Linked DNA regions of Homo sapiens: region 1 is linked to region 2. Evidence: fine-mapped expression QTL. Tissue or cell type: testis. Region 2 holds a variant in brackets; the other region holds the start of a gene. All regions are shown on one strand. Distances are from middle to middle.

Evidence for each region. PIP is the estimated chance that this variant, and not a neighbour inherited with it, causes the effect.
Region 1: THSD4 starts here. The variant in region 2 is fine-mapped to the expression of THSD4 in testis (GTEx, PIP 0.97).

The regions. Positions count from the first base shown.
Region 1 is chr15:71,112,389-71,117,539 of GRCh38, forward strand. THSD4 (thrombospondin type 1 domain containing 4) reads left to right here and starts at 3,083. Exons shown (of 18, transcript NM_024817.3): 1 at 3,083-3,310. CT62 (cancer/testis associated 62) reads right to left here and starts at 3,116. Exons shown (of 4, transcript NR_168260.1): 1 at 2,536-3,116; 2 at 1,243-1,375. RefSeq lists silencers at 2,897-2,946, 2,983-3,160, 3,007-3,066, 3,097-3,236, 3,387-3,476.
Region 2 is chr15:71,305,499-71,310,649 of GRCh38, forward strand. The region is part of intron 6 of THSD4 (thrombospondin type 1 domain containing 4); the gene reads left to right. It overlaps LOC124903520 (a long non-coding RNA gene), which reads right to left and starts at 835. Exons shown (of 2, transcript XR_007064700.1): 1 at 1-835. The variant T/G (reference allele first, on the strand shown) is at 2,632.

The DNA.
Region 1 (5,151 bases), 190 kb before region 2:
AACTGACACATGACAGAAGAGTTATGTTTCTTGTCTGTCCCTTTAGGAGCTGCCTCTAGGGCCAGTGGATAATAATTACAGGGCAAAAGGTTTCAAGTCAAAATTAAAAGGGAATTTCTAACAAAGAGCCTCTAAGAACAATGTGGCTATTTTATGAGGTAGTGAGTAGCTCACCACATCAGATATGCAAAGGGGTGACCCACCCTCCAAGATGCTGTGTATAGCTGACACTGACATGCCAGGCAGGCCCCCAGCCTAGGTAAGCACAGGCTAGCCTTTGACTGTGATCTGAAGCACATATTCTTGGCTCTCTCTTTCGGTGAGGGTCAGTAAGCTATTTTATATGCAAGGACCACATTCTGCTCTTCTGATTCATACGTGACAGACACATTTGGATAAAAGCAGAAATATAACAGGACTGAAAGATTAAAACTTGCTGTCTTAGCATACTTAATATTCACTGATGCTTACACATAATGTAAATATCTCTTTGTTTAAAATGAGTATAGGCTGGTCTCTGTGGCTCACGCCTGTAATCTCAGCACTTTGGGAGGCCAAGAACGGAGGATCACTTGAGCTCAGGAGTTTGAGACCAGCCTGGGCAACACAGCAATACCTCCTTTCTACTAAAAATAAAAAATGAAAAAAAAATTAGTCAAATGTGGTGGCGCACGCCTGTAGTCTCAGCTACCTGGGAGGCCGCAGTGAGAGGATTGCTTGAGCCCAGGAGGTGGAGCCTGCAGTGAGCTGCAATCATGCCACTGCACCCCAGCCTGGGTGACAGAGCAAGACACTCTCTCAAAATAAATAAACAAATAAAACAAGTATTATCTTGACTTTAAAGAAAGAGACTTTCTTGTGACATATAAGCAAAATATGGTCAAAACAATTTGACCAAGGTTGAAAATGGACTGGAATCACTTCTAAGGAGCCAGCCTAGGTCTGTCGAATCAAGTTTGCTCACTAATAATCATACTTTGGTTATGTCGGATGTTAACATTAGAGGAAGAGGGTGGGGGATATAAGGGGATTCTTTGTACTATTTGTGAAACTTGTCTAAAATTATTTCAAAATTAAAAAATAACAAACAAAACCACATCCTTTGCTCCTGAGCCCTGTTCGCCCCAGACATTATGTGATGAACTCACTCCGTTCTTTAAGATCCAGCTCTGCAGAGCATCTCAGATTCCCTGTCCTGAGGCAGGTACTCCTGTATGAGCTCTTAAATACTTCTGCATTTACCTACCACCTACTGGTATGGTTTTCTGACTATATTTCATCTTCTTCGCCTCACGTGGAGTTTCTTTTAGAATGGAAAGTTTTCTTCCTTTCCTCTTTGAATCCTAGCACCAAGGCCACACTCGGCACTGAATACCTGTCTCGAATGAATGAATAAATCAATCTTGTTTGAACAAATCTTATTAGTTTTGCTTTTTTAAAATTATGGTAAAATGTACATAACATAAAAATTTCCATTTTAACCATTTTTAAGTGTATAATTCAGTGACATTAAGTACATTCTAAAGTTGCGCAGGTTTTTTTTTTTAAATCAGTTCTAAATGGTTTAAACTGGCCAGTATTTACTAGAGCTGTTAGATCGACTTAATTTGGACCCATGAGACTCGTGACACTCAGAATTAATCTAATCCCATTTACACCAGGTGCCTCCCATCAAAATCTGTTTGATCAAGTGTGGAATTATTTCATCCCATTGGAACCAGCTCTTGAATCAATCAGAACTGGCTCTGCCAGGCTCCGGGCCAGTAGTCGGTGCTCAAAATGGTGTTTCTTTCTTTGGCCTAATCTCTTGAGTAGCCTCTTTCCCTTTTGTTAATTTTTTTTTTTTTCTGGAGGACAATCTTCCCTGGGAGCTCCCTTCTGCTCCCACGAAGCGCTCTGCACCCAGCCCTGGTGCTGCCTGGCTCTGGGGCAGGGAGCTTGCATTCTGCCACCTCCTTCATTGTCCTCTCGGTATACCTGCACTTTCAAAACAACCCCTGCAGGCAAGCTTTAGAGGCAGCGATAAACAAACAGGCTGACTGAAATTTAGGGAAACGCCTGTATCTGGACAGCCTCTTCAAATATTTGTCACCCCCTCCCTGCTCTGGGGAAAGAAGAGACAGTTCCTCACAGTCACTCTATTTCCTGCCTTCCCAGCTCTGAACACCTTGGCTCGAATGTAAAGAATTTGGCTCTGAATTAGGACTCAAGAAACGGGGCCCTAGCAATTTTCCCTCCATTAACTAAACGCGTCACTTTGGTCATGCCCTTTTGGGGGCAATAATTTCCCAATTCGTAAAATGAAGGGATCAAAGTTTGATTTTTATCATTACTAATGAGAAGAATTATTATTTTTTTGCAGCAGGCTTTTTTTTCCCCAACAAAATATTACTCTGAATAAGACAAGAAAGAATCCCGAACGGCTCTGGCCGTCAGGGTGTGTGTGTCTCCTCCCCATGCTGTCTAACCCCCGTTGGAATTTGGAGGGCTCTTGTCCTTTCCCCTTGGCCTCAGAAGGAGCCCAGCGCGTCCTACCTTGCGTGGGAGTGTGTGTGTGACCAGGGCTCCTTCCTGCCCTTAGAGTCACCGCCCCCTTCTCGCACAGGTTTACAGCACCACTTGCCTCGCCCACTCCCCGCTTTGCCTCCGCCCCATCCTGATGCTGCCGGAATGGCTGTTCCAAATGGAAGGATGCCCGCGTCCGTCCCCTGCCCCAGTCCTTCAACAGGTCCCCACAGACCTCAGGATAAGATGAACGCGGAATTCAGGGCCTGGTCTCAACCGCCCTCTCCCTTTTCCTCTCACTTAGACGACCCTGGCCAGCTGGGCCACTCTCCACTCTCGCCCCCTCCCGCCCTCGTGGCCTCTGTCTAGACCGTACTCCCTCCTACTGGGTGATGTCTCTTCCCCTGGGACCCAGGGACCATCCCGTTGTTGACCTCCGGGGTCAGGGGTGCGGATGGGGGCCGGCCCTTCCCGCGGTCGCCGCCAGGGGGCGGCAGGAGCGGCTCCAGATGACAGCGGGAGGCCGCAAGAGGGGAGGGAGGAAGGACCGAGGGAGCGCGGATCCCGCTCTCGGATCGCAAACTCTGAGCCAGAGCTCTCCGCGCGCGCCTGAACCGCTGGCCGCCCGCGCAGCCCGACGCGGAATCGGGGCACAGCGGGAGCCCGTGCAGGGCGGGCGCGGGGCGGCTGGGCGGCGGTGGCGGCCGTCCATGCGGCGGCGCTCGGGGCTGCCCGGCGCCGGGAACCACGCGGGGGCGAGGCGAGGCGAGGCGGCCGCCGGTCGCTCCGGGACGCGGACCGCCAGGTGAGCAGAGCCGCGCGCCCCGCGTCCCCTGCGCGCCGCCCGCGCGGCCCCGACCCGGCTTCCGCTGCCCAGGCTCCGGCTCCCGCTCTCTGGCCGGCGGGGCGGGCTGGCGCGGGCTACCCAGTGGGTGTGTCCGGGGCGCCGCGGGCTGCGCCGCTCCGGGCTCGGGGAGCCAGCGCGCGCCTGGTCCGTGCGGACGGCTGCGCCTCCTTCTCTGGTTCTCTTCCTTGCTGGGAGTCTTGCTCTGTGCTGGCGCCGGCGCTCATCCCTCCACCCTCGACTCTAGGGACAGTCTTAAACTCTAGGGACAATCCACCTCAGTCGTCCCCGGGTCGGGGCCCCGTGCTCCCCGGGTCGGGTCGGAGGGGACCGGCGAGTGCACACCCAGCCCGTGCGCCCCCCACCTCAGCCTCGCCTCCCTCCCGCCTGGGGCCCGAGAGCCGGGCAAGTCTCGGTCAGCGCTCCTTGAGTCCTGGCCTGGGGCCTCGGATCTGTGTGTCTGTCTGTCTCAGTTTAGTTGCTGCAACCCAGCGAGCGCCTGGAGCCCGAGTGGATGGGTTGTTTCCGCCAACTCTGGACACTTCCTCAAGTGCAGCCTAAGTACCTGCGGCCCCTTGGCGCACTTACAGAAGTAGCTTTTGCACAGCGAGCTCACCTTGGAGCTCTACAGATCTGGAAGTTAAGTTTTCTTTTTATTTGAAATAACATCAGCCCTCACTTGGGAAGGGGATTTTAGGGCGTTCTCGGGCCCACCTAAGTATCTGGAATTTGTGGTCTAGTAAGTTTTTTAAGCAGTCCGCACCCAGCACCGTACCTCCCAGCCTCCTTTGCCGTCTTACTAAAAGTGCATGCTTGCTTCTCTTCCTGTCTCCTTTGCGATCTCTACCACGCTGCGCTTCGCCCTTTTCGGGCTATGAGTCTAAAGCTTGGACGTGGGTAGCAATCATTGGATGCCTGTTGGAATTTGGAATTAGAGAAATAGATACCCGAGAGAGATCTAAGGAATCGCCTTGTCCAACCCTCCTTTCACAGTTGGAGGCACCCAGGACCCCTGACAGTCTGAAGATTTTTCAAGGATCACACAGCTTTTAAAATCCGCGTGTCTTCTACTTGATTAATATTGTTGGAGGTGATGGAGTAACTGGGCTTACTAGGGTCTTACTGGGTCTCAATATACAAAGAAGCAAACATTTTAAAAATGTGACTTAAAATACGGAACTCTTCAATTCCTATAGATTTTTGTTGGCATCATAGTTGAATTCCTTTAGAAAACAAAATCCTAGCCCTGAAATTAATGTGAGGAAGCAAGCAGATGGGCGTCCTGGGACTTTCCTATAAATCTCTGCAGGGCTGGAGCAGGGATTTCCCAGAGGTCTGGGCCTGGGAAATGAGTTTGGGTGATCAGGATACTGGAGCCCCTTCTGAATAAGCAACTGGGTTGGTTTCTTGTGGGGAGGCTGGCCAGTGGAACTCATGTGATCTCCTCTGTGCCCAGCACTGGGCGGGGCACCAGCTTGGCATTACCTTCTTTTTAGTCTCCTATGCCATAAAGAAATATTTCTTACTGGCTGTTAGCGAAAGAAAAATACAGCCCAGAGTTTGGGAGGAAGATCAGGGGTGGGGAGATTTTTGACTTGGAGTTTGTTTTTGTTTTTGCCTCGAAAAACTTGTGGAGATTGCAATCAGTTATCCTACACAGAGGCTGTGTATTGCCGTCTTCTCCATCCCCCACATTTCTCTCCATGGTACCACTTTTATCCTAATTGCTGGGAGTCTCAATGTTTAAATGTTCCCAACACTCCCATTCTGTCCCCCACATTTATAGCTCATTCATCGCAAAA
Region 2 (5,151 bases):
CAGACACATACAAGTTCCTATCCTGATTCTGCCACTTAATAGTTATGACCTTCAACGGTATTCTACCTCTCTGAGTCCGTTTGCTTTATTCAAAAACTCCAAGTTGCTGGGAGGATAAATGAGATTGTTATTGTAAACTGCCCAGCACCTAAGATGCACTAAGATGTGGTAGCTCTTATCACCCTTCCTAGAAAGGTTATTCCGGATGGGGACTGATGCTGTCCAGGAGAAATGGATGAGTAGAGGGAAAGCTGTTTGTTCTTAATAGTAGAATGAAACTCACATGTGTCACTAACCAAGGGGCCTGCCCTGCTGGGACAGGCCTCCCCTTATAGCCCACTCCAAATCTATCCTTCTCGAGTTCCCACTCACTGGAATCTCCAGCCTTCCAGATTTTCTGGGACCTGGAGTTGGCCAGTCACCACCACCATCCTATGCAGCTTTCCCTTTATTACTGGAGGAAGTGTGAAGATAACTTTTTCCCTCAAACGATTGTAAAGAGCTTAAAGGCATTAAGATGAGAGACGGGCCAGGCGCAGTGGTTCATGTCTGTAATCCCAGCACTTTGTGAGGCTGAGGTGGGCAGATCACGAGGTCAGGAGTTCAAGACCAGCCTGGCCAACATGGCGAAACCTCTTCTCTACTAAAAATGCAAAAATCAGCCGGGCGTGGTGGTGGGCACCTGTAATCCCAGCTACTCGGGAGGCTGAGGCAGGAGAATCACTTGAACGTGGGAGGCAGAAGTTGCAGTGAGCCAAGATTGTGCCATTGCACTCCAGCCTGGGTGATAAGAGCAAGACTCTTGCCTCAAAAAAAAAAAAAAAAAAAAAAAAAAAAAAAGGGAATGGTATTATATATTTTTTGATGCCTTCTCTTATGGCCAGTATCTTACTAAACTATTTTATCTCATTTTCATCCTCATAATAACAGAGGTCACACCCAGATTTATCTTTCTTCAAAGCCTGTGCTCATTTCAGTACACTCTCTGCTTCTCAGTTACCTTTACTGAGAAATTAAGGTAAACAAAGCAGCACCAATGAAAAAAGGGTTTGGAAAGGAAGCATTTGTGTTTTATAAAGTATGGGTGTCTAGTCCACTAGTTCAGCAATTTTCTCAACCCTGGTGTCTGTTAGAGCCATACATCTCTGAAATCCTGCTTGAAAGAGAATTCTGTGGCCAAATAAAGTCAGGAGTGCTGCATATAATCTTACCATCTTGACAATGCATAGTGCAGAGTATCATTTTAAAGGTTCTGAGAAGTCCTGCAGTTCAAAACAACCCCAAAACATAAAATTGCTTAACCTTGTGTTTGCCAAACATATTATAGACCCCTGTATGATATGTGAAACATGTATTAATATCCTTGTTGCACTTCTCCTTCACAGAGCATTCTTTAGAAATACCAGTTTGAAGTACAAGCATAAATTTCTCAAATTTTTTAATTGGCCTCATGTCCCAGTCTAGGAGAATATTCAGGCACCATCCCAGAATTTTCTGCCTTGTCCTCTCTCCAGGTCTTGCTCTGCAGTCCTCCCTCAAGCCATACTCTTGGGGAAAACACTTTCCTTCCAGGCTTTGGGACAAATTTGCCTTCCTTGTTCTTGGGGATTCTTCGGAGCTCTGGCCTGTGAAAGTTGCTCTTCTTGACTGACACCCCAACTTTTCTGGCCTGTTGGTGGCTGAACACCTCCTCACTAGCCACGTGTTAAGGCTGGCTCAGTAAATATGCCCAGGTCCTCCATGATGGGAAGTTAGGTTGTCATGTAGCCATAGTTATGGCGGTGGCTGTGTGACCTCTGTGTCACCGTCTTCCCACATGTAACTTGGTATTATACCCAGTTTCTACATCTGTGTGATTGATGTGTATGTTAAGTACATTGGATGTGCCAGCATACTGAATTTTTAAGACCTAAGTGTGTCAAGGGCCCTCAAGATCATCCTCAGCCTTGATGATTTGCTAAAAGAAATCACAGTACTTAAAAACCCATTCAGGCCAGGCACGGTGGCTCACGCCTGTAATTCCAGCACTTTGGGAGGCTGAGGCAGGTAGATCATGAGGACAGGAGTTCAAGACCAGCCTGGCCAACATGGTGAAACCAGTCTCTACTAAAAATACAAAAATTAGCCAGGCATGGTGGGGGGCACCTGTAATCCCAGCTACTTGGGAGGCTGAGGCAGAGAATTGCTTGAACCTGGGAGGTGGAGGTTGCAGTGAGCTGAGATCGCACCACTGCACTCTCCAGCCTGGGCGACAGAGCTAGACTCCATCTCAAAAACAAACAAAAAATGCTTTCATACTCACACTTATGGTTTATTACAGTGAAAGGATACAAATAAAAATTAGCAAAAGGAGAAGGCATATGGAGCCAAGTCCAGGAGAAATCAGGCACAGGATTCTAGGGATCCCCTCCCAGTGGAGTTGCACAGGGATGTGCTTAATTCTCCCAGCAACAATGTGTGATGATACATGCTTCCCCACCAGGGAAGCATGCCAGAGCCTTGGTGTCCAGAGTTTTTACTGGGGCCAGTCATAGAAGCATGCAGCACCTGTGTGACTGACCTCTAGTTTCTCCCAACCCAACCTCCTCTACCCTCCAGCAAAAACAGGCATTCACCCTGAATACTGGGTGG[T/G]CTATGTTCTCAGACATACAAAAACACTCTTATCAGGACAGTATTCCAAGGACCCAGAGGTTACCTCCCAGGAGCCTCCAAGGGTCAGTCCTTGAGGCAGGCCTTTCTCTGGAATATGCAAGGTTTGAGCATCGCAGGCCTGCTGAGTTAGCTTTTTCTTAACCCTTCCCTGCCTACTCGGGTTTAACTTGTCCTTTTAAGTTGCTACTTTTCTTAGAATGATTGAATTCAAGTCAAATAACAGGTTCTTCACATTGATTCTTTTTCCTGCTAGGGTGCTTATTGAAATATGGAAGACAATATTTGGGCTTGGTTTGAAAGATCAGGAGAGCCCTGTCTCCTTCCTTGCTTTTTATTTTGTTTTCTTTATTTTTTACTGAGGTAAAATTCATAGAACATAACATAGCCATTTTACATTGTGCAGTTCAGTGGCCTTCCATGTGTTCATGTGGATCAGTTCTTCCTTCATTTTAATTGCCAAGTAATATTCCATGGTTTGGATATATCATTTTGTTTATCCATTCCTCTGTTTATGGACATGGGTTGTTTCCACTTTTTAGCTATTATGAATAATGCTGCTATGAATATTCACGTGCAAGTTATCGTGTGGCCTTGGGTATATGCCTGGGAGTGGAAGTGCCCAGCCATAGGATAACTCCACAGTTACCTTTTTGAAGAACTGCTAAATTGTTTTCCACAGCAGCTGCAGCATTTTACATTTCCACCAGCAACGTATGAGGGTTCCAAGTTTTCCACATTCTTGTCAACCTTTGTTATTGTCCATCTTTTTAACTCTAGTCATCCTAGTGGGGAGTGAAGTGGTTTCTTGTGCTTTTGTTTTTTGGAGACTCACTTCATTGCCCAGGCTGCAGTGCAGTGGCACTATCTCGGCTCACTGCAACTTCCGCCTCCCAGGCCCAAGTGATTCTCCCACTTCAGCCTCCCGAGTAGCTGTGATTACAGGCGCATGCCACCATACCCAGCTAATTTTTTGTATTTTCAGTAAAGACAGGGTTCACCATGTTGGCTAGGCTGGTCTTGAACTCCTGAGCTCAGGCAATCCGCCTGTCTCAGCCTCCCAAATTGCTAGGATTACAGGCATAAGACACCACACCTGGCCTGTTTTATTCTTAATGACTAATGTTGAGCATATTACTGACCATTGTATGTCTTCTTTGGAAAAATACCTATTCAAATCCTTTACCTATCTATAAATTAGGTTGCCTGTCTTTTTATTGTTAAAGTGTAAGCGTTCTTTATATATTCTGAATACTTACCAGATATATAATTTGCAGATATTGTCTTCCAGTGTGGGGTTGTCTCTTCACTTTCTTAATAGTGTCCTTTTAAGCACAAAAGTTTTAAATTTTGATGAAGTCTAATTTACCCATTTTTTCTTTGGCTGCATGTACATTTGATGTCCTATTTGAGAAACCATTACCTAGTCTGAGGCCATAACGATTTACACTTAGGTTTCTTTCTGAGATTTATAGTTTTAGATCCCTGACCCATTTTGAGTTAGTATTTGTAAATGGTGTGAGAAAGTGGTCCAACTTCATTCTTTTGCATGTGGATATCCAGTTGTCCAACCACAATTTGTTGAAGAGACGATTTTTCCACCATTGAATGATTTGGGCACTCTTGTTGACCGTATATGTATGGGCTTGTTTTCTGTTTCTTTCTTAATAAAAAGATATACTTGACAGAGGAAGGTGTGGCATGCAGGCCGTGTTACACAGAGAATATGGGCTGCCTGAAACAGCCCCAGTGCTGACCTCTGCTACTTTCCTCCCTACCTCATGTACTCGCAGATGGACACCCAGCATTGATGGCTCTCCACCTGTATAGCTTGTCTTCACCCTGCAAATATTTATTATTCATACAGCTCCTAAAAGGTTGGGGAAGGATGTCAGCTGACATACCATAGAAAGCTATCAGTTGGATAATGCTAGTATTAGGAGGTGATTTTCAAACCGTGGTCCTTGGTACCCTGCCTCCTCTAATCCAAGTACTTCTGCTATTATGATTTTACCTACCTATCTGTCTTTTAGCATGTTTTCATTTTAGGAAATCAGCACAGACCTTATGATTCTCTTACACTGTGGGACTAGGAGAGATCCATTAGAATCCAGTTTATCACTAAGTTGAAAGGATGCCTGGAACATATGTAAATGTCTCTGTGGGGGCCAAGGAAACTTCCCCTTTGCCTTCTGAAGGCTCATTGAGAAATCAGCTCACAAAAGCCAGATTAATTGGAGAAACATGTGTACATAGGTCCCTTCAGAACGAAGACCTAAAGATACAGGGAAAAGTGTCCATATTTTTAAAGTATCCATTTTTATGCTTAGGTTCAACAAAGTATGGACAGCCATGTAGAAACATGGTTGACAAAAAGGATGTGATCTAATGCTAATAGACTGAGTGGGGGAAACTCAGCAGGGCCTGCCTATCTAGATTCTTCTTGGCCTCTCTAAGCTTGCATTCATTCCTTCTGGGTGACCTCTCTGGAATGGAGGGGGG